Linked DNA regions of Homo sapiens: regions 1 and 2 are each linked to region 3. The links come from fine-mapping of genetic effects on gene expression. A gene starts in region 3. Each other region holds a variant in brackets. All regions are shown on one strand. Distances are from middle to middle.

Evidence for each region. PIP is the estimated chance that this variant, and not a neighbour inherited with it, causes the effect.
Region 1: its variant is fine-mapped to the expression of NHLH1 in whole blood (INTERVAL, PIP above 0.99).
Region 2: its variant is fine-mapped to the expression of NHLH1 in whole blood (TOPMed, PIP above 0.99).

What each region holds. Positions count from the first base shown.
Region 1 is chr1:160,388,657-160,396,838 of GRCh38, reverse strand. All of the region lies in intron 3 of LOC105371466 (a long non-coding RNA gene), which reads left to right. It also overlaps the pseudogene RNU4-42P. Among named protein-coding and RNA genes, the nearest start is that of VANGL2, 7.8 kb to the left of the region's middle. RefSeq lists an enhancer at 4,223-4,272. The variant T/ATACATACATACT (reference allele first, on the strand shown) is at 3,613.
Region 2 is chr1:160,242,486-160,250,667 of GRCh38, reverse strand. DCAF8 (DDB1 and CUL4 associated factor 8) reads left to right here. Exons shown (of 14, transcript NM_015726.4): 3 at 6,634-6,708. The coding sequence starts at 6,660. Among named protein-coding and RNA genes, the nearest start is that of DCAF8-DT, 15 kb to the left of the region's middle. The variant C/T (reference allele first, on the strand shown) is at 4,708.
Region 3 is chr1:160,362,027-160,370,208 of GRCh38, reverse strand. It overlaps NHLH1 (nescient helix-loop-helix 1), which reads right to left and starts at 3,138. Exons shown (of 2, transcript NM_005598.4): 1 at 2,872-3,138.

The DNA of each region.
Region 1 (8,182 bases), 27 kb before region 3:
TTTAATGTGAGAACCACTGAATGAAACTTTCTGATTTCCTTCCTCCTTCTTGGGAAGAATAGACACTCTCCAGCTCCCTTGGCTGGGACTAGGCCCTGCAGGTGTGCGTTATATCCTGTCCTTTCCCACCTCCATCCATTATTCACAATCTCTCCTGTAACCAACTTCGGCCTCTTCACTGATCTTTGCCCAGCAGACATAATAAAATGAAATACCTTCCTCCACTCAGCAGCCTCCTCTTGCTTTAGCCTTCGCTTTTATTTCTTTCTCATCCAACCTTCTTAAAAGAGTAGATTCTTAGGCCAGGCCTGGTGGCTCACACCTGTAATCCCAGCACTTTGGGAGGCTGAGGCGGGTGGATCACCTGAGGTCGAGAATTAGAGACCAGCCTGACCAACATGGAGAAACCCCGTCTCTACTGAAAATACAAAATTAGCCGGTCATGGTGGCAGGTGCTTGTAATCCCAGCTACTCGGGAGGCTGAGGCAGGAGAATCGCTTGAACCCAGGAGGAGGAGGTTGCGGTGAGCCGAGTTCGTGCCATTGCACGCCAGCCTGGGCAACAAGAGTGAAACTCCATCTCAAAAAAAAAAAAAAAAAAAAAAAATGGATAGATTCTTTACTATCTCTCTTCCTCCCTTCACTCCTCAGCTCCTTGCACCCCAGCCATCCTTCCAATGTGTTTTCTACTCCTGACTTCAAATACTATTATTTCCCAGAATTCAGCCTTTGGCCCCCTTACTCCCCACTCCACATGCTTTTCCAAAGCAATGTCATTCACTCCTGTGGCTTCAGTCAGTACTCACTTATGAGTGCTGCTAAATCCAGGTCTATCTTGTGAGCATAAGACTCAAATTTTCAACTTCCTACCATACATTTTAACTTGGATATTCCTTGGGTATCTTAAATGTAATAGGTTTAAAAGGAACAACATTATCTTCCTTCCACCTCTATCCCCTTGGCTTATTCAGACCTTTATCATTTCCAAACATGTCTCATTCCCTTCCAATCCGTCTTCCTCCCATGTTGCCAATGTGATTTTTATGAAAGGGAAATCAGCCTGTCACTCTCTTACCTAAAACAATCCATGGCTTCCCACTGTCTACAAGATAAAGTCAAAACTTTTTGGCACCATACATAAGAAACTTCAGGCCCCAACTCATTCGCCTTCTCCAGGCTTATCTCCTAGTGCTCCCTGTGCATTTAAAGCCCAAACTTTCAACACACGTACATCCAAACTATACGCATCTACTCATTGTTCTGCCAATTTGAGGCTCTATTACTTCTCTGCCTTCTCACAAAGTTTCCTTTGCCTAAAATGCCTTCCTCCTTCTTTCTGCCTGGAAAGTTTTGTTGATCCTTCAAGACTGAACTGTGGCCTCCTCTGCAACTCTTTACCAATTTTCCCAAGCAAAGCTAGATGACCCCACACCCGGAGAACCTCCTTTGTGCTCTCAAAGCTCTGCATACCTTTGTTTTAGCATTTATGACATTGTATGGCAATTTCTTAATAATAATTGTATGGTAATTTCTCAATAATAGCATTTTGAGGTTGGAAGAGACTTTCTGAATTTTACAGATGAGGAAACAGGTACAAAGTAAGTGCCTCATTGCCCAAAGTCATACGGCTAATTAGTGGCAGCCCCAGAACTAAAACCCGGGTCTCCTGACTTACTGTTCAGCAGTCTGTCAACTGCACCACATTTACTGAGCACGGTTTCATCTGAAATAAAGATCATGGTAGTGACTCCTAGCCTTTTGTGGACTTTTGAGACTTTGATGAAAGCTACAAGCGCTCACCAGAACAATGTACACATGTACACACACAGAATTCACATCCATTCTCAGGGCATGCTGGGGGGTATGTGTGGCATTGGTTTAAAGAGAGAAAAATCTAGAAGTAGCAAAACCAGTAAGAAGGCTAATTAAATAGTTTGGGGGCAGGGTGGTGGAGGGGAGTTGAGCCTGGCTCCAAGGCTGTGGGGATAGATAAGGATAGAAAAGAAAGCTCATTGCCGGGCACCGTGGCTCAGGCCTGTAATCCCAATACTTTGGGAGGCTGAGGCGGGTGATCACGAGGTCAGGTGTTCGAGACCACCTGGCCAACATGGTGAAACTCCGTCTTTACTAAAAATACGAAATTAGCTGGGCATGGTGGTACATGCCTATAATCCTAGCTACTTGGGAGGCTGAGGCAGGAGAATTGCTTGAACCTGGGAGGCAGAGGTTGCAGTGAGCCAAGATCATGCCATTGCACTCCAGCCTGGGCAACAAGAGCGAAACTCCATCTCAAAAAAAAAAAAAAAAAAAAGCTGAAATTTGGAAGAGATGACCTGCAGGTGGGATGAATAGGGTTGAGGAACAAAGAGGCATTTAAAATGACTCAGAGGCTTCTGGTATGTATATTAAAGAAGCTGGTCATGCCATACATAAAATTAGGGGCTATTGAGAGAGCAGGTTTAAAGGGTAGATCATATGTGGGATTTGACAGGTATCTCAGGTATCTGTGGACTATCACGGTAGGGACATCCATAGGAAGCTGTTAATAACATAAGCACTTTCCACATCTCTCCTGCCACTCTTTCTCAGGCTATCTGAACAATCTATTATTCCCTAGCCCAAACACATGCTTTACTGCCTCCAATCCCATTGTTCATCCTATTGCCTCTATATGGAGCACCTTCCTTACACCATCACTCATATGCAAAATATTTCAAGGTTCAATTTGAATATTTTCTTGAGTAAGTCATTCCTGACATCATCGATTTGACTTAATATCTCTCTTCTATAAAGTCCCAAATCTTTCTCTGAATCTCTCCCACCATATTCACTATTTTGTCTTTTTTTTTTTTTTTTTTTTTGAGACAGGGTCTTGCGGTGTTGCCCAGGCTGGAGGGCAGTGGCATGATCTTGGCTCACTGCAGCCTCAACCTCCCCAGGCTCAGCTGATCATCCCACCTCAGTCTCCCGAGTAGTTGGGACCTGCCACCATGCCCAGCTAACTTTTGTATTTTTTGGAGAGACAGGGTTTCGCCATGTTGCCCAGGCTGGCCTCCAACTCCTGACCTCAACTGATCCACCTGCCTTGGCCTCCCCAAGTATTAGTATTACAGGTATGAACCACCATGCTCGGCCATATTCACTATTTTGAATTTCAGTTATTTATGTTCCTGAGAAAAAGAGGCAAGAAGAAACAAAGGATAGATGGTACAGATAGATAACAAATAACAAGACCAAAAGTTAAACCAGGCTATATCAGTAATCACATTAAATATAAATGGTCTAAATACTCCAATTAAAGGCCAGGCGTAGTGGCTCATGCCTGTAATCCCAGCACTCTAGGAGGCCAAGGAGGGCAGATCAGTTGAGGTCAGGAGTTCAAGATCAGCCTGGCCAACATGGTGAAACCCTCTCTCTACTAAAAATACAAAAATTAGTCAGGCGTGGTGGGGTGCACCTGTAATCCCAGCTACTTGGGATGCTGAGGCAGGAGACTCACTTGAACCCAGGAGGCGGAGGTTGCAGTAAGCCAAGATCATACCACTGCACTCCAGCCTGGGTGACGGAGTGAGACTCAGTCTCAAAATACATACATACATACATACATACATAC[T/ATACATACATACT]CCAATTAAAAAGCATAATTTGTCAGATTAGATTATAAAAGCAATATCTAACTGTATACTGCCTAAAAGAAATCCTTTTAAATATAGACAAAAATAGGTTAAAGCTAAAGGGATAGAAAAAATGTACCATGCTAATGCTAATCAAAATAAAGTTGGAATCGCTATACTAATACTAATAATGTAGATTTCAGAGCAAAGAATATTGCCCGGGATAAAAAAGAATCATTTCATAATGATAAAGAGGTCAATTCATCAAGAAGACATAATAACTCTAAACACTTATGTACCCAATAACAGAGATTCAAAGTACGTGAAGCAGCTTTGCACAATGGCAAGTATCATAGCCAATGAGGTTTATCTGAGGCATGACTATTGCTAATTGAAAAATTTTCCCAATACCCCACTGTGATGACTTGCAACATAGTCAGCACTGACAATTTTTGACAGTCTATACAAAGACTGAATTTGAAAAAAAACAAAAAAAAACAAAAAAACAGCTGGGCTAGTCATAGTGGCTCACACCTATAATCTCAGCACTTTTGGGAGGCCAAGGTGGGTGGATCACGTGAGCCCAGCAGTGCAAGACCAGCCTGGGCAACATGGTGAAACCCTGTCTCTACTAAAAATACAAAAATTAGACAGGCGTAGTGGCATGTACCTGCAGTTGCAGCTACTCAGGAGGTGGAGGCTGAGGCATGAGAATCGCTTGAACCCAGGAGGTGGAGGTTGTGGTGAGCTGAGATCATGCCACTGCACTCCAGCTTGGGCAACAGAGTGAGACTCAGTTTCAGAAAAAAATAAAAATACAAATACAAAAAATTAGCTGGGCATGGTGGCTCACACCTGTAGTCCCAGCTACCTGGGAGGATCACCTGAGCCTGGGGAGGTGAAAGCTGCAGTAAGCCATGATTGCGCCACTGCACTCCAGCCTGGGTGACAGAGTAAGACTCTCTCTTTATCTCTCTCTCTCTCTCTCTCTGTGTATGTATATATGTTTGTGTGTATATATGTGTGTGTGTGTGTGTGTGTGTGTGTGTGTGTGTGTATATATATATCATGAAGCAAAAACCAATAGAACTACAAGGATAAATTGACAAATCCACAAGGATAATCAGTAATATCCATACCCATACCTTAATAGTTGATAGAACAAATAGAAAATCAGTAAAGATGTAAAAGATTTGACCGACAGTATCAACTAATTTGACTAATTGATTATAGAACATTCCATCCAACAGCAGAATTTTTTTCAAGAACATTGCACATGGAACATTTACCAAGATAGCCATAAAATAAGTAGTGATCAATTTTAAAAGAATCAGATTATATAAAATATATTCCCTGGCTGCAATGGTATTAAAGTAAATACCAATAATAGAAAGATATCTAGAAAATCTCCAAATAAAATACCAGAGACTGGAAAGGGTGGAGGGGAAGGAAAGGATGAAGACAGGTTGATTATGTATACAAACATATAGTTAGATAGAAGAAATAAGTTCTAATGTTTGATAGCAGACTTGGGTGACTATACTTAGCAACAATTTTATGTATATTTCAAAGTAACTAGAGGAGAGGACTTGAAATGATACCAGAACTTAAAAATGATAAACACTCATTACCAAGGTGATGGGGGATAGAAATCTGACATCAAGGTGTTGGCAGGGCCATGCTTTCTCTGAAGGATCTAGGAGAGAGTCCTTCCTTGCTTCTTCTAGCTCCTGGTGTTTTCTGACAGTCCAGGGCATTCCTTGGTTTGTAAATTAATCACTCCTTTCTCTGCCTCCATTGTCATTTGGCTGGATTCTCTCTCTGGATCTCTGCGTCATCTTCCCACCCTGTGTGTCTATGTCCAAATTTCCCTCTTCTTAAAAGACACCAACCATATTGGATTAAGGGCCCATCTCACTCCATTACCTCATCTTAATGAATTGCATCTGCAAAGACCTCTATTTCCAAACAAAGTCACAGTCACAGGTACCAGGGGTTAGGACTTCAATGTATCTCTTGGAAGGAGGGGTCAATTCAATCCATAACACTAGCAATGAACACTCAAAAGATTAAATTTAAAACACCATTTACAGTGACACCAAAAAGTGTAAAATACTGAGAGATAAATCCAGCCAAAGATGTGCAAGTCCTATGCACTGAAAACTATAAAATATTGCTCAAAAAAATTAAAGAAGGTTGGAGTCCATTCCAAGATGGCCAAATAGGAAGAGCTCCAGTCTGCAGCTCCCAGGGTGATCGATGAAGAAGATGGCTGATTTCTGCATTTCCAACTGAGGTACCTGGTTCATCTCATTGGGACTGGTTGTACAGTGGGTGCCACGCACGGAGGGCAAGCCAAAGCAAGGAGGGGCATCGCCTCACCTGGGAGTGCAAGGGGTTTGGGGATTTCCCTTTCCTTGCCAAGGGAAGCTGTGACAGACTGTACCTGGAAAAATGGGACACTCCTGCCCAAATACTGCACTTTTCCAAGGTCTTAGCAACCGGCAGACCAGAAAATTCTCGGCTGTGCCTGGCTCAGCGAGTCCCATGCCCACAGAACCTTGCTCACTGCTAGCGCAGCAGTCTGAGATTGACCTGCAAGGCAGCAGCCTGGAGGAGGGAGGGGTGTCTGCCATTGCTGAGGCTTCAGTAGGTAAACAAAGTGGCCTGGAAGCTTGAACTGGGCAGAGCCCAACACAGCTCAGCAAGGCCTACTGCCTCTACAGACCTCACCTCTGTAGGCAGGGCATACCTGAACAAAAGGCAGCAGAAACTTCTGCAGACTTAGATGTCCCTGTCTGACAGCTCTGAAGAGAGTAGTGGTTCTCCCAGCACAGCATTTGAGCTCCAAGAACAGACAGACTGGCTCCTCAAGTGGGTCCCTGACCCCTGTGTAGCCTAACTGGGAGACACCTCCCAGTTGGGGCCGACAGACACCTTATACAGGCAGGTGCCCCTCTGGGACGAAGCTTCCAGAGGAAGGATCAGGCAGCAATATTTGCTGTTCTGCAGCCTCCGCTGGTGATACCTAGGCAAACAGGGTCTAGAGTGGATCTCCAGCAAACTCCAACAGACCTGCAGCTGAGGAACCTGAATGTTAGAAGGAAAACTAACAAACAGAAAGGAATGGCATCAACATCAACAAAAAGAACATCCACACCAAAACCCCATTTGTCGGTCACCAACATCAAAGACCAAAGGTAGATAAAACCACAAAGATGGGGAGAAATCAGAGCAGAAAAGCTGAAAATTCTAAAAACTAGAGTGCCTCTTCTCCTCCAAAGGATCACAGCTCCTCACCAGCAATGGAACAAAGCTGGATGGAAAATGACTTTGACGAGTTGACAGAAGTAGGCTTCAGAAGGTCAGTAATAACAAACTTCTCCGAGCTAAGGGAGCATGTTCTAACCCATTGCAAGGAAGCTAAAAACCTTGAAAAAAGGTTAGGCGAATGGCTAACTAGAATAAACTGTGTAGAGAAGACCTTAAATGACCTGATGGAGCTGAAAACAATGGCACGAGAACTTTGTGACGCATGCACAAGCTTCAGTAGCCAATTTGATCAAGTGGAAAAAAGGGTATCAGTGATTGAAGATCAAATTAATGAAATAAAGCGAGAAGACAAAGTTAGAGAAAAAAGAGTAAAAAGAAATGACCAAACCCTCCAAGAAATATGGGACTATGTGAAAAACCAAATCTAAGTTTGATTGCTATACCTGAAAGTGACGGGGAGAGTGGAACCAAGGTGGAAAACACTCTTCAGGATATTATCCAGGAGAACTTCCCCAACCTAGCAAGGCAGGCCAACATCCAAATTCAGGAAATACAGAGAACACCACGAAGATACTCCTCAAGAAGAGCAACACCAAGACACGTAATTGTCATATTCACAAAGGTTGAAAATAAAGGAAAAAATGTTAAGGGCAGCCAGAGAGAAAGTTCAGGTTACCCACTAAGGGAAGCGCATCGGACTACAGCAGATCTTTTGGCAGAAACCATACAAACCAGAAGACAGTGCGGGCCAATATTCAACATCCTTAAAGAAAAGAATTTTCAACCCAGAATTTCATATCCAGCCAAACTAAGCTTCATAAGTGAAGGAGAAATAAAATCTTTTACAGGGCCAGGTGCGGTGGCTCACGCCTGTAATCTCAGCACTTTTGGAGGCTGAGGCGGGCGGATCACGAGGTCAGGAGATCAAGACTATCCCAGCTAACACGGTGAAACCCCGTCTCTACTAAAAATACAAAAAATTAACCAGGCATGGTGGTGGGCACCTGTAGTCCCAGCTACTCGGGAGGCTGAGGCAGGAGAATGGCGTGAACCCAGGAGGCAGAGCTTGCAGTGAGCCCAGATCATGCCACTGCATTCCAGCCTGGGCAACAGAGCGAGACTCCGTCTCAAAAAAAAAAAAAAATCCTCTACGGACAAGCAAATGCTGAGAGATTCTGTCACCACAAGGGCTCCTGAACGAAGCACTAAACATGGAAAGGAACAACCAGTACCAGCCACTACAAAAACATGCCAAATTGTAAAGACCATCAACGCTATGAAGAAACTGCATCAATTAACAGGCAAAATA
Region 2 (8,182 bases), 120 kb after region 3:
ATCCTTTCAGCACTTTCGTTTTCAAGTGAGAAGTCTGGACATTATGCTCTCATTTGCTATGATATATTGACCATTTTTGTCAACTTCTATTAATCACAGCCTTGAGAATTTAGTGTTTTTAATGGTATTATGTCATTTAACAATTTGCATGATTTTCCCCCATCACTCTTCTCTCATCCTGTTTTTTTTTTTTTTTTTTTTTTGAGACAGTTTCGCTCTTGTTGCCCAGGCTGGAGTGCAATGGTGCGATCTTGGCTCACCGCAACCTCCGCCTTCCAGGTTCAGGCAATTCTCCTGCCTCAGCCTCCCGAGTAGCTGGGATTACAGGCATGCACTACCACGCCCGGCTAATATTTTTGTACTTTTAATAGGGATGGGGTTTCTCCATGTTGGTCAGGCTGGTCTCGAACTCCTGACCTCAGGTGATCTGCCCGCCTTGGCCTCCCAAAGTGTTGGGATTACAGGCATGAGCCACTGCGCCGGCCTGCATTCGCTCTTTTTAGGCCACGTTTATTAAGGTATAATTTATATACAGTAAAATTTATCCTTTTTTGAGTTGGCCTATTCTTTTAATTCTGACAAAGGCATAGTTATGTAACACCACTGTGATTGGCGCATGGAACATTTCCATCATTCCAAAAGGTTTTCTCATGCCCTTTCGTAGTCAGTTTCATTCCCCTACCTCCAAGCCCTGGCAATCCCTGATCCCTCTATTCCTATAGTTTTATCTTTTCCAGAAAGTACTATAAGTGGAATCATATATTGTATAGCTGTTTGAGTCTGAATTATTGCACTTACCATAACATACTTGAGATCTATCCATGTTGTTGCTTGTATCAGTAGTTCATTCCTTTTTATTACTCAGTAGTATCCCATTGTGTGGACCTACCACAATTTGTTTATCTATGACCCAGCTGAAGAAAATTTGTTTCCAGTTTTTTGATGAATTTAAGTAAAACTATTAAAACATTCACCTACAGGGTATTTTTAATTTTGTGGACATACATTTTCCTTCTTGTTTATCTTATTTATTTATTTTTAAAGATGGAGTATTGCTGTGTTACTCAGGCTGGTCTTTAATTCCTGGGCTCAAGCAGTCCTCCTGCCTCAGCCTCCCAAATTGCTGGGATAACAGGTCTGAGCCTCTTTTTTCTTGTATAAATTCCTGAAGCTGAAGTGGGATTCCTGAGTTGTATGATAAGTGTATATTTAACTTCATAAGAAACTGCCAAATTGCTTTTTTCAAAGTAACTGTACTGTTTTGCATTTCTAGTAACAGTGTATATGAGTTGTAGTTGCTCTACTTCTTGTTAGTACTTAATAAAGTAAATTTTTGTTATTTAAACAATTTTTGACCATTCAAATAAGTGTTTAGTGGATTCTCATTGTGGTTTTAATTTATATTTTCCTAATTATTAATAATGTTGAGGATCTTTTCAAGGGATTATTATTTACAGTACTTTTTTTGGTTTGTTTTTGAGATGGAGTCTCCTCTGTTGCCCAGGCTGGAGTGCAGTGGTGCGATCTCAGCTCACTTGCAACCTCTGCCTTCTAGGTTCAAGCGATTCTCCTGTCTCAGCCTCTCCAGTAGCTGGGACTACAGGCATGTGCCACCACCCCCAGCTAATTTTGTATTTTAATAGAGATGGGGTTTTACCACGTTGGTCAGGCCAGCCTCAAATTCCTGACCTCAGGTGATCTGCCCGCCTCAGCCTCCCAAAGTGCTGGGATTACAGGTGTGAGGCACCACACCCGCCCTCTTTTTTTTTTTTGAGATGGTGTCACTCTGTTGCGTAGACTGGAGTGCAGTGAGTAGCAGGATCATAGCTCACTGCAGCCTTGAACTCCTAGACTTAAGTGATCCTCCCACCTCAGTCTTCCAAAGTGTTGGGATTACAGGTGTGAGCCACCATATCCAGCTCGCGATAATTATTTAGTTGTGACAGTTTTTTTTTTTTCTTTTTTTGAGATGGAGTCTTGCTCTGTCACCAGGCTGGAGTGCAGTGGCGCGATCGCAGCTCACTGCAACCTCCTCCTCCCTAGTAGCTGGGATTACAGGCACGCACCATCATGCCTGCCTAATTTTTTTGTATTTTAGTAAAGACGGGGTTTCACTATGTTGGCCAAGATGGTCCTGATCTCCTGACCTCGTGATCTGCCCACCTCGGCCTCCCAAAGTGATGGGATTACAGGCGTGAGCCTCCACGCCCAGCCCCAGCCTGTTGCGACAGTTTTAAAGGATATTCTGGTTACTGTCCTTGATCAAATACATGTTTTGTAGATACTTTCTTCCAGTCTGTAGCTTGTCTTTGCATTGTTGTAACAGTATCTCTTGGAGATATTTTAATTTTTTTTTTTTTCTAGATGGAGTCTCTCTTTGTCACTCAGGCTGGAGTGCAGTGGTACTATCTTGGCTCACTGCAACCTCCACCTCCTGGGTTCCAGCGATTCTCTTGTCTCAGCTTCCCCAGTAGCAGGGACTACGGGCATGTGCCACCACGCCCGGCTAATTTTTGTATTTTTAGTAGAGACGGGGGTTTCACCATGTTGGCCAGGCTGATCTCGAACTCCTGACCTCAGGTGATCCACCCGCCTTGGCCTCCCAAAGTGCTGGGATTACAGGCCTGAACCACCGCTCAGATTTATCAGAATTTATTAATTTTGATAAATCCAACTGATTAATTTTTTTGTATGTGCTTTTTGTGTCCTATCCTAAGAAATTGTTGCCTAACCCAAGGTCACAAAGGTTATTTTCTTTGTTTTCTTCTGGAACTTGTGTTGTTTTAAGTTATATTTAGGTCTGTGATTCATTTTGACTTAGCTTTTGTATATTGTACAATGTATGGATTGAGGTTCTTTAGTTTTTTTCTTTTGGCAGTTGAATGTTCAGTTATTCTGGTACAAGTTGAGCATCCCAAATTAAAAAATCTGAAATCTAAAATGCTTTGAAATCTGAAACTTTTCGAATGCCAACTTGATGCTCAAAGGAAATACTCGTTGGAGCATTTTGGATTTTGAATTTTCTGATTTGAGATGCTCCACTGGTATATTGCAAATATTTAAAAATTTGAAACACTTCTGGCCCCAAGCATTTTGGGTAAGAGGATACACCGGACAAGGGATACGTAGTCTCTTATGCAGATCTTTCATCATATTAGAGGAAAAGAGCAGCCCCAGTAGTTTTAAACAAGAGACACTTGGTATCTCTTTTACAGAGTACTCTTATCCAGCGTAGTAAAGTCTTTCTGCCTGGTTTTTAGTTAATATTTTGTCATGTAATTGGTTAAAAATTTAAGGCTTTATTCTTATTAAGACAAGAAAAATCTAGGTCACTGGAATTTCTTAGTGAAATTAAAATGGCACCTGGGTCTTTTTTCCTCACCCTCCAGTGGGTTACTCTTTAACCTTCAGTTTGGCAGGAGTTATGGTTATTTTTAGAGTAGGAACAGTGGAGCTAATCTAATTAAACTCCTCCAACTACCTGGGACAGTGAGCTCATCAGCTTTTCCAACCTCAGCAAGATTAGCTTTGGACTAGATTTTACATGAAAGTTGATCAAAGTAAAAATAGTGGATTTGTTGGAAATACAGTGAAAAGTGAAGAAGATAGTTTGGATTTGAATCAAATATGTTCTCTGCAGACCTCAGTTTATAAAGTTAAGACTGTATTCTTTGGTAATGGAAAAGATTTTTTATTTTTTATTTTTTTGGAGACTGTGTCTTGCTCTGTCGTCCTGCCTGGAGAGAAGTGGTATAATCACAGGTCACTGCAGCCTCAACTTCTATGGCTCATGTGATCCTTCCATCTCAGCCCTACCCCAAGTAGCTGGGACTACAGGCATATGCCTGACTGATTTTTTTCTTTTCTGTAGTGACGGGGGTCTTCTTATGTTGCCCAGGCTGGTCTCCAACTCCTGCCTCGGCCTCCCAATGTGCTGGGATTATAGGCGTGAGCTGCCGTGCCTGGCTGGAAAAGATTTTTCAGTGGCTCCTATACTTGACACCTAGGGCACAGCATCTCTGCCTCCTTGACTGATTTATAGAGACAAGGGTCTCACAGTTCTGCCCAGGCTGGTCTTGAATTCCTGAGCTCAAGCAGTCCTTTCTCAGCCTTCTGAGTAGCTGTGATTACAGGTGCATGCCACACCTGTGAGCATCAGGTTCCTGCTCAAAGTTTTCACTCATATAGGTTCATAATCAAAGTTTGGAGACCACTGCTCTAGAGTATCCTTCTGCAGAAATTTTGACATTTAATTCTACTTACTTTTATCATCTGTGCACATGTATTTTCTAGAGCAATTATGAGTCAAAAGTTCAGGCAGTCTGGGCTCCTGTAGGAGTTGATGCTTGGTTTTGAGAGAGGTTCTCTGCAGCTGCTTTTGAATTCTCTGGGAGTGGATAATAGTGGGGTGAAACGTATGGTAAAGAGTTTTGATTATGGAGGTGGGAAAACATCAGATCTGTTCTTCATGTTACACTGGTCTGCTTATTACCTTAGTTTATAAGTTTTTTTTAATTTTTTTTTTTGAGACGGAGTTTGCTCTTGTTGCCCAGGCTGGATGGGGTGCAATGGCACGATCTCGGCTCACCACAACCTCCGCCTCCCAGGTTCAAGCAATTCCCCTGCCTCACCCTCCCTAGTAGCTGGGATTACAGGCATGTGCCACCATGCCCAGCTAATTTTGTATTTTTAGTAGAGACAGGGTTT[C/T]TCCATGTTGCTCAGGCTGGTCTCGAACTCCTGACCTCAGGTGATCTGCCCTCCTCGGCCTCCCAAAGTGCTGGGATTAATCTTAACAAAGTAGTACATTTTCCCCACTTGATAGGAATTAATATAATTTTAAACTCTAGATGGAGAAGATAGGCTCCTATTCTAAAGAATATAAACAAGGACTGTTGAGAGGGAAAAACAAGTGCTGTGTGAGGAATGCTATACAAAACTGTCTACCTCAAAAATGAGGAAAACAAAATGCATTGCAAACAGCTTCTCACTATTTTTCTTCATGTTGCTTCACATATCTGTTTTTTGTTGCCATTGTCTTTCATCATCACCCTTCCAGGTGTCCCTTCCTGAAGTTCAGTCAGCTTCAGCCCCAGTCTTGCAGTATTTCTATTCCCACCTTGGCCTATTATGAACAATCTTTGGGCTACTGTCTTTTGACAGAGGATACTTTTAATGAAGCAGCTTAGATTTCTATAGAGGGTAGCGGAGGAAAAGATAAGGATGAGGCTGCTTCTGGAATAATTGTCATGGGAATGAAAGGGCTGTTGAAAGATTAGAGGCCAGTGTGCCTGGGTACAAGGACTGGGGTCATAATTATACTTTGTCTTTTACTAGTGCCTTTTGTCCAAGTCACTGAAAGGGCTTAATAAAATTCTGGTCTGAATAATATTATTCTTTGCTCTTTGGAATTTACTGGAGGTGGCAGTGAGGCTCTGAAAAAAATATGAATGTTTTATAGTGGCATAAAAGGAAGTGAGTTAGATACCCTGATTCCTTGTTAAGGAAAGATGAGTCTGGTGAAAGCTGGTGCTGTTAGGTGAAACAGTGTTTGCCATTATATGAAATGGGATGAGATGGTTTAATGGAAATGTTGCCTTTTTCTTCCCCACCTTTGTCTTTGTGCTTAGAGACTCTGACTGTTAGTCCTAAGGGAAACAAAACAACTTAAGCTTCTTTCCTAGGGATAGGGTGCTCCTGATTTCTAGTTTCAGCTCTATAATCCTTAGTATCTGTGCCTTTAATAAGTTTGAAGTTAGTTGGGCTGGGCGTGGTGGCTCATGCCTGTAATCCCAGCACTTTGGGAGGCCGAGGCGGGCGGATCACTCGGGAGATCGAGACCATCCTGGCTAACACAGTGAAACCCCATCTCTACTAAAAATACAGAAAGGTGGGCATGGTGGCAGGCGCCTGTAGTCCCAGCTACTTGGGAGGCTGAGGCAGGAGAATGGTGTGAACCCGGGAGGCAGAGCTTGCAGTGAGCCTAGATAGCGCCACTGCATTCCAGCCTGGGCGACAGAATGAGACTCTGTCTCAAAAAAAAAAAAAGAAAGAATAATAATAATAGGTTTGAAGTTAGTCATCTGAGTGAACAGAAAGCTCAATCTCTTCCCCCAAGAGGTTGATTTCTGTTGATTTGTGTGTAAAATGATACTCAGAATCTGACCCACCTCTTTATGTTGTGAAAACAAGTGTTGTACAGAGTTTGAGGATACATATGTCACTTATTTACATTGGAAGATTCTTGCCTAGGGGGCAATGCTGAAGTTAGCTTTATGTATTGAGTTGAGACTCTTGGCTTGCAGTACCTGTCATTTGATATGTGCCTCCTGTTCCAGGTTTTATTTTAGTTCCCACTTTCGCATCTGAAAAATCACTGCCAGTTACTCAGTGAGTGAAGTAAAGAGATGGCACTTGACCTCCCCAAAAATATATCATTATATGGATTTTAAACATAGGGAAGAAAACATAAGGAAGAAAAAATTTCACAAGCTGAGAAGACCTGTTAAGCATGCATACACAAATCATTTTTATAAAAATGATAAAACCTGTACATTGTTAAATCTCCTTGTCCCTATTGTCTTCTTTCCCAGGTGGTTTCCTAATTGTTTTGGTTTCTTCCTCTCCCAAACCCAGGCTGGCTACAGCAAACATCATTCAAGATGTCCAGCAAAGGGAGCAGCACAGATGGCAGAACAGACTTAGCTAATGGTAAGGGGCCAAAATGAAGGTGAAGCTATTTTTACTATCAACTGAGGTTGTCCTCCTCCCTGCAAGATAGAGTGGAGGCCTGGATTTTAGTGGAGAGAGGGAAACTTTCCTGTGTTGTTCTGAGTTTAGGAAACTACACAGGAAACACCTTGGACTATATTATGCTTTTGCTTCTTCTGATTTTATCTGATCATTTTCAAAATATCAATAACAGAGCTGTACTTCTAAGAGGTCAAGTGGTTTGGAGTTCTATAAAGCTATAAGGATGGGCAGAACCTAGGAAATGCTGTTAGTAAAGGAGAAAAATAAAATCTAATGGCTAGTAGGAACAAGGGAATTTTAGGGAAGATGAGCTTCCCAGTTATATTGAGAGGTCCCTTTCCACAGTAAGTAGTAGTTTGATAGAGAGATTACATGGCTGGGCATGGTGGCTCATGCCTATAATCTCAGCACTTTGGGAGGCTGAGACAGGCAGATCGCTTGAGCCCAGGAGCTTGAGACCAGCCTGGGCAACATAGCGAGACCCCGTCTTTTTAAAAAAAAAAAAAAAAAAGGTGATTACATAAGGGATGAAGTTACAACCCAACTAGGAGTGGGACATCTTTCCCCTCCTTATTTCCTTTCCTTACTTCCCCTCCCTTCTTTCCATTTATTTCCTTCCTTCCTTCCTTTCCCTCCTCCTTCTTTTCAGGACCAGTGCTGCCAAGTGTCAAATCACTGGCTTTAGGGCAGATTTGAAGGCAGAATATAAAAATTCTAATAGAGTATAACTACCACCTGGGTTATTTAACCAGCTCTTCACCTCTGAGCCAACTTTTAAATTAGAGAAGCCGCCTTTAAATGGATATAGTTGGGCAGCACAGAGTCCAGCATTCCTTAGCACCTTGAAGGTCAGGATAACAGGCTAAATTCTAGTTGATGTGATTGGAGGAAGGATAAGTGAGATTTTCAACATGCTTTTTTATTGCTCCATATGTTCTTATCACTGCCATTCATTCATCTTTTGTAAAGGAAAGTGGTTCATATTTTTCACTGGGTTTAGTTGAAAGGCACAGGGTTCTAGAGGAGTTAAAGTATACTATTGATTTGGAGCTTGACCATTAGCTAGGTCAAGGATTGGCAAACTATAAATTGCAGGCCAAATCCAGCCTGCCACTTGTTTTTGTAAAGTTTTATTGGAATACAGTCATGCCTGTTCGTTTATGTAGTGTCTATGAGTTGCTTTTGTTCTACATACTGGAGTTGAGTAGTTGTGGTGGAGCTCCGTATGGTCTGCAAAGCCTAAGGTTTTTACTATCTGGCCCTTTACAGAAAAAATTTGCAAACCCCTACTCTAGATCTTGGTGATTTACTGTTGGGGACTTCTTGATGAGCTTGTGATACCCTCTGGCCCTTATGTTAATGTGGTAAGGCCTCCAAAATTGTCTATATTTGTTACTCATAATTTTAACAATAAACACTAGATGTTTTGGTG
Region 3 (8,182 bases):
CCTTCATGATGTTGGACTCAGCAGTGATTTCTTGGAAATGACACCAAAAGCACAGGCAACAAAAAGCAAAAATAGAAAAAACGGGACCACATCAGACTTTAATTTATTGACGAACATAATCAACAGAGTGAAAAGGCAATCTATGGAATGGGAGAAAATATTTGCAAATTATATATCTGATAAGGGGTTAATATCCAGAACATATAAATAAATCCTACAACTCAACAACAGCAAAAAATCAAATAACCCAATTTAAAAATGGGCAAAGGAGGGATTGGGAGGGGCGTGAAATGAGAAATTACAGAATGGGTACCGTGTATGTTATTCAGGTGATGGACATCCTAAGAGCCCTGACTTGACCATTATGCAATCTATGCATGTAACAAAATTGCACTTGTACCCCATAAATTTATATAAATAAACATTTTTTAAGAAAAAAATGGGTAAAGGACTAGAATACACATTTCTCCAAAGATTTTATACAAATGGCCAACAAGCATATGAAAAAATGTTCAACATCACTAATCATTAAAATGCAAATCAAACCCACTATGAAATATCACTTCATACCCATTAGGATGGCTACTATAAAAACAAAAACCAAACAAACAAAAAATAAGTCTTGGCAAGGATGTGGAGAAATTGGAACCCTTATGCCTTGTTGGGATTGCAAAATGATGCAACCACTATGGAAAACAGTATAAATGTTCCTCAAAAAATAAAAAATAGAACTACCATATGCTCCAGGAATCCTACCTCTGGGTATATATACAAATAAAGTAGGGTGTCAAAGAGATATTTGCACACTCATGTTCATAGCAGCACTATTCACAATAGCCAAGAGGTAGAAGCAACCCAAATGTCCATCAATAGACAACAGATAAACAAAATGTATTATATACATACAGTGGAATATTATTCAGCCCTAAAAAGGAAGTTCTGTCACATGCTACAGCATGAATGAACCTTGAGGATATGATGATAAGTGAAATAAACCAGTAACAACACAAATACTGTATAGCTCCACTTATATGAGGTATTTAAAGTAGTCTAATTCATAGAAACAGAAAGTAGAATGGCCGTTGCCAGGGGCTGGAGGGAGGGGGTAAAGGGGAGTTGTTGTTTAGTGGGTATAGAATTATACATTTGCAGGATGAAAAATTGCTAGAGATCTGTTTCACAACAATGTGAATATACTGAACACTACTGAATTGTACACTTAAAAATGGTTAAGATTATAAATTGTATGCTGTTTTTTATCTAAATGAATAAATAAAAGGAGGAAAAAATCTGAGCAAGACTGCAGCCACAGCCCCAAGAGAAGTTAGCTATGACTCTAGATGCTTCCCAGTTGTGAGGGGAGAATACAAGCCTTGGCCCTGTGGTCCCCTCCCTCTCAGGGCCCCTCTCCACCCTTGCTGCCTGAGGTGGAGGAGCGGATAAACACACAGATTGCCCATTGTAGAATAGACTAGGACATATGGAGCTCTGCGCAGCTGCCCCAGCTCTGCACAGCTCCCCTCCCAGTTCCCCAAACCTTCCCAGCAGAACCATTGTAGATATGAGATCCTGTCCACTAAAACCAGGGGAAGATATCTCTTCTCACCACCACCCCACTGTGCACAACCAGCCTCTTCCTCCACCTCTGTCTTCGAAATTTTCAGCCCTTGCCATTCCCTGGCCCTTTTGGAGGCTGGGCAAGGAAGATTGGGGAAAGGGAACATAATCAACCTTCTACCCCCATACTCTCCCATAGCCCAAGGAAGGTTCAGACACGGCCTGCAGAGGACACAGACAGATTTTTGGAGCTACCCTTATGGGACTCAGCTAAGGTTTGCTTGTCCTAGGACCAGAGGAGATCAGGGCAAGGCAGCACAAACATGGCCTGGGAAAAGCTGGGGAAAGGGCTTTGCTTGTGTGCAGTGTTAAAGGGGAACAGTGGGCCACTCACCATCAGCTCAACTAAGAATGATTAGAAACAGAAGCACCAAGGTGCCTGCACCATCACTATCTCCCCTTCCTCCCCAGCCCTGGCTTTCCTGTCTGATAGATACTCTCAAAGGGGTTAGGATCCTCCCAAGCCTTGCCCCACCCCACCACACAGAAGATAGGTTCAAGTCAAGCCAACAAACAGCTATGAAGCTCTGGAGGGATGCAAAGTCATCCACATCTGATGACAAGTACACACACAATCTTAACAGGAAACAGAAGGTGGTTAGTGCTGAAATTGAGAACACATTCCATATTCTGGGGTTCAAATGAACTATGGGGGGATGGCAATAGTGTGGGAGGCCCCAAAGTCAGCACCTCCCAGTACATGTTTAGTGCCCCCAACTCCCCACCCCCCATGCTGGGGCTGGGAGCAGGAGTTCAGCTGCGGAGTTCCCAACACATTTATCACATCTATCACAGGCTAATTCTCTCTGCCCGGTCCCTATGTTCCTTCATCCCTCATCACTTTGCCATGCCCTTCCTTCCCCTCTCCGTGCTCCCCATCTGGCCCCAGTCTCATCTCCACCTGGCCCCATTGTCCTCCCCAGTTCCAGTCCCGGCAGCAGCTTCTATTTACCCATCAAGTCCTCACCCCCAAATCCACTTCTGGTCTCAAAGTTCCAGGGTCCAAGGATCAGGGGAGCAGCAATTCCAAGCCTGCAGGACAGGACTTCCCACCCCACTTCTGCCAGCCCTAACCCAACTGAGGATAGATAGGCACAAAGAGTCGAAGGGGAGGAGTGGAGAAGAGGGACACGCGGAGACAGGGAGAGACACAGCGCACAAGGGAGAGAACTAGAGGGAGGCTCTAGGAAGGGGCTTGAGCCAGAGAATGGGAGGGACACGCCCATCCCTCCCCGCCCATGGTTTCCCCTTTACCTAGAAGGACCCTGTCAGGGGATCCAAGCCGGCAGGACAAGGGGCAGCGTTGACAGCCCCAGTCTCCTCTGGGTGCTCAAGGCTCATCCGTCTGCAAAGTTAGTGACCAGCTTTCTAGACTCTCAGGGGTAGCGTGGCATGGCTGTACAGGCTCCAGGGCAGATAAGAGGGGTACACATTGTGGGGGTGTAGGGCCCAGGTGGAAGTGGTGGGCTTGGCCAGGTACTGGGGCCAGCCACACTCACACACACACCCTCAGACACACACACCTGAGCTGGCCCAGCCCTATGTATATATATGGAGATACACACACACACCCCCAGCTCTCCATTGGCTGGCCCAGGCCCACCCCCCCCTCATCAATATTAAACAGCCAGGCCAGGCAGCCATTGGCAGAGGGATCTGGGAACCCCTCGGGAGCTGGGGGCGGGGGCTGGCCCTGGGTGGGGGCGGGGAGCGGGGGAGCAGGGACATCTGTTCTCCATGCATATTTCATAAGCAAGAAATGGAGAGCTGGGGAAGGGGTGGGGCTGGGGCGAGAGCCAGGGCAGGACCACAGATGAACCCCCTCAGTCTCCCACACCAGAGGCAGCAGGGCAGAGGCTCCCAGCAAGCTATGGTTAAGTGCCATGGCCCCATTCGGAGTCCCAGCGTGACTTGGACAGCCCCTTCCTGGTGTCTCTTTTTTCCTGAGAGGGAGACTCTTCAAGGTACTAACAGGGAAACCGAGAAAAGAGCAAGTGGGTAGCACTAAAATGCAGAAGAGGACCCTAGGGTCCTGGCCCTCAAGCTCTTATCCTTCATAAAGCTGGTACCCACTGCTTGCCAGCCTGCCTGTAGCAACTGTTCAGGCCCCTACCCTCATCACCCTGGGACTCAATCACCCCCATACCCTCTTACCCCACCCGCTATCTTCCTACCTAACCCATCACCAAGGGGAGGAGCAGGATCAAATTTGGGACACAGACCCCACAAGGAGTTTTTCTAGGCTGGCCAGCCCAACCTGACCCACTGGGAATTAGAGGGCTCTTAGGAAGAAAGAGGTAAGGGCTAAAAGGAGAGGAGTGGAGGAGTGCCAAGACAGGAAGAACCAGGATTGGAAGGACACTGGGAGAGGAGGGCAGGGCAGCCTAGGCAGGCTCTGAGTGTGTTTTGAGGGCATCAAATCAGCAATAAGAAAACCAGACACAAAATTATATGCAAATGGGCACTGATTAAGCTCCCATCAATAGCTCAGCAGCCTCCAGCATGTATATGCAAGTGTGTGTGAATGTGAATGTAAGTGTGAGTGTGTGTGTGTATGTGTGTGTTGCCGAGTGGCAGGATTGAGGAGGGGCAGCACAGGGACCAGAGTGCATAGAGAGACAGTGCATAGAGGGTTTCAGTGTCTGAAGTTCTCTCCCCACTCAGCTGTTGGATGTCTTCTCTGAACCTTTGAGAGTATTCAAAAGAACCATGACTGGAGAGGACTCCAGAGGTAGTGTGGTACAGTGAAAAAGGCTCTGTCAGCTGTGTGACCTTGGACAAATAACAACCTTTTGAGCCTGGACCTCTTTTCCTGTAAAATGGGGTTGATTATAGCTGCTTCTTAGGTTGCCATGGAAATTAAGGGAGATAATATGTGTAGTGGGCCTAGAGCTTAGTAGGAGCACATCCCACCTTCAGGCTGGAGGGACTTGCCATTTCCCTGTTGCTGGTCAACCTTTTCTGGGCTTTCTCCAGGGTGAAGCATTCCCTAAGGGGGTCCCATAATTCCTCCCCAAGCTCCCCCACCTGCCCCCATCCCTGAGTCTGGGAGGTGCCAACTCCCACCTGGGCAGGCCCAGACAGGTGCCCAGGCGCCAGCAGATGGGCTGAGCTGGAGGGGAAAGGAGGCTTGAGGAGGGGGGCTGGGGGGCAGGGGATCAGGTGGCATCTCAGTTCTTGCATCATCATTGCCATGGTGCTGATTAAAAACCAATCTCCACCTAATGAGCCCCCAGCAACAACAATTCTACCTCCTCCACTCTCCTGCCCTCCACCCCATCCAAGAAATTGGGAGACCAAGAGACTCAGGAGAGAGTGCCATGGGGGAGATGAGAGATACAGAAAGAAGGGGAGATGAACAGAGACAGGGGAAGCGGAGGGAAACGACGAGAAAGACACGGGAAGATACCGAGACTCAGGGAGAGAAAAAAATGAGAAACCAGAGTCATTGGGTAACAGACATGGGAAAGACATAGGGAAATGGGAAGACACAGTCTCATGGGGAGATTGAGACACAAAGGAGGTAAAAAGATTTAAAAAAAAAAAAAAAAAAAAGAATGGAAACAGAATTGCCAGGTTGCCAAGGCTTTGTGGAAGACTTGGAGACCCAAGCTATGGGAGAGATAGAGACTTGGGGAGAGGCTTTAAAAGAGGATGCTGTGGCCGGGCACGGTGGCTCACGCCTGTAATCTCAGCACTTTGGGAGGCCGAGGCGGGTGGATCACCTAAGGTCAGGAGTTTGAGACCAGCCTGACCAACATGGTGAAACCCTGTCTCTACTAAAAATACAAAAATTAGTTGGGCGTGGTGGTGGGCGCCTGTAATCCCAGCTACTCGAGAGGCTGAGACAGGAGAATCGCTTGAACCCGGGAGGCAGAGGTTGCAGTGAGCCAAAATTGTGCCATTGCACTCCAGCCTGGGTGACAAGAGCAAGACTCCGTCAAAAAAAAAAAAAAGGAGGCTGCTAGGGAGACACAGACTTGGATGAATACATATGTGGAGGAAACAGCTATTCAGCGGCAGGGAAATACTGACACCATGAGACAGAGTCCTGAGGGAGGCCCCAAGGCAAGGTGGGGCCACATAGGCACGGGGTAAGCAGAGAGCAGACAGTTGGGAGGAAACAAAAAATACCAGAGACAAAGAGAACAAGGTGGGGAAAGGTGATAAACTGAACGATGGAGATGAGGAACTATTACTGAAACAGGGAGGCCAGATCCCAAAAAGTAAGACATTGAGGAAAAAAGAAGCAGAATCTAGAGAGACCCCCGAAGCAGAAAGGAACCTTGAGGATGGCATAGAGCATGCAGGAAGAAGCCAAACCCCTTGCAGGGCTCCCTCCTTTCAGGCCATTTTGCTCAGATACTTAAGCTCTGCAACCTCCATCCCTGAAGCACACCGCCTGAACCCGTCGCAGTTCAAGCTAAGGTTCCACGGGAGAGGAGGGTGAAAGAGTGCTCTGGGGGCTGCTCCTCCTCCTCTGCATCTGGCATCCCAGGATCCTGGACTCTGGGGCCTCCTGCCCCAGTTTTCACTTAGGATTTCAGCTTTTGCTCCTTAGGGGAGTAGCTAAAAAAGAACATAGTTGTGACAAAGAGGACATAAACGCATGAAATGGTGGGAAGAACTACATCTACTAAATTTGGGGGCAGCTACACATGGGTCTAAGTCCTGGTGACCTTGGATAAGTCACTTAACCTTGGCTGAGTTTTATTTTGTTATAGTAGTGACACCCAGGTGAAATAATGCATGGGAAAGTGCTAGGTGAACTGTATAAAGTGCTCATCCCAACCTCCTATGGTGATTTAAAAGTGGCAAGAAGTTTCATACACACATATATCTGAAGCATTATGATTGTGGAGGCAGGGGAGAGCTCTGAGGCCAACCCAGGTTGTCTGGCCTCTGGCCCCAGTGAAAGGGAGAACCCTTGGAGTTGTGTGTGGGTCTTTGCTGCAAGGAGGACAGGAAGACCAGGGCCTGGGGATAAGGAGGATGATTATGGCTTTATAGTTTGTTGTTATTTTACTTTCTTTTTGTTGTTTAAAAATCTCCACTGGCTTTTATTTGCTATAATCCGATAATCAAGCAAAACCTGATACAATAGAATGAGTGTTCCTGCTATTTTACATTTTATAGGCATTCACTTTTTCAGATCATGATTCACAAATCTTTCCCCATAGCCTGAGAGGTAGATCGTTGAGGGAGGGGAGGGAGGTTGGTGTGTAGGGAAGACACAGGGGCCTGGGCCTTGTCCTTGAGGGTGGGGGGAGGGCCTGGAGGAGCTGGGAAGCAGTGGGTTTGGCAGGAGAGGGGGTGACATATGTGGGGAGCCCTGGGGACCCAACCAGGCAAGCGGCTGGCAGGGACAGCAGACGACATTAACCCTCGCTGTGCCACACCGCCTGACCCTTCCCAGGAGTGGCCTATGGCTAGGGTGTTATTTTGTAACAGTGGCAGTGTTTTGGGTCACAGGAGCAAGACAGGCAGAGCTTGCTCCTCCTGGGCAGGAGCTGTTGTTTCTGGGAAGGGACAGCCTGTCTTGGATGTCTTCTGTCTTAGCTTCTTTCCTTGTTTTTCCACATGGTCTCTGTCAGTCTGTCTTTCTCTGTCTCCACCTCTCTGTGCCTCTGGAAGGTGACAGCGGGTCTCCACTCTGGCTCACTACACAATCTGTCACTCTCTCTGCTGCCAGCCCGGCTGGAAGCCCCCCTTCTCAGCACCCAACTGAGCCCTCTCCTCCCGGCCCTCTAGGCTGTATTGCCTTTGTCTCCTAAGGCGGCCTCCCCTTTCTTCTCTCCTCTTCACTCACCTCTCCTCAGCTCATAGTCCATCTCCAATCTCATTATGGCCTCCAACCACTGGGCTCCCCCCTAACCCCCCCAACCTCTTCTCTTCCCTCCCCCATCCATCTGTCTTCCCTGAAGCTCTCTTCTTTGTGTCCACCCATCTGTCACCACCAGCTCTGGGCTTACTCCCCTCCTGGCCACGCCCGCCTGGCCTTTCTCCCCTCAGGCTCGGATCCCTCTCAGCACAGCTTTCAGCCTCCCTTTCCGCCTTCAGCCCTTCCAGGAACCCCCTACTTCCTTAGTTTCCTTTCACTAGCTTATCCTTTTCTGGATACCCTCTCATTTCACTTTTTTTCTTTCTTCCCTCAGTTTATCTAACTCCTTCTCAGTTGTGAGTTGGGGGAGATAGTGGGGACTCTAGGGGTCCTAGCCCCCAGCTTCTGAGCATCCAACTAGCCTGAGCCAGAGGCTGTAACATTTACTCACAATTGCATCATCTCCGACTAATGACTTCTCCTTAGGCCTCCTGAGATGACCCCTCCACTCCTGCTCCAAGTTTCCCCTGACTGGGGACAGGGGCAACAGCTGCCCTTTTCCACAATAGGAGTGGGAGAGCTCCTCTAGCTTTGGAGTTTGAATTCAGGAAGGAATAAAAATCCAATCTGAGGCCCATTGGGACCCCAACCTTCCAGGGGTCCCTGCTTCCCCAGTTTAACTTCGATTCCTGCCAAACTTTTTTTGGGAATGGGATGCTGGGTGACAGGGTCTTTTCTATGGTG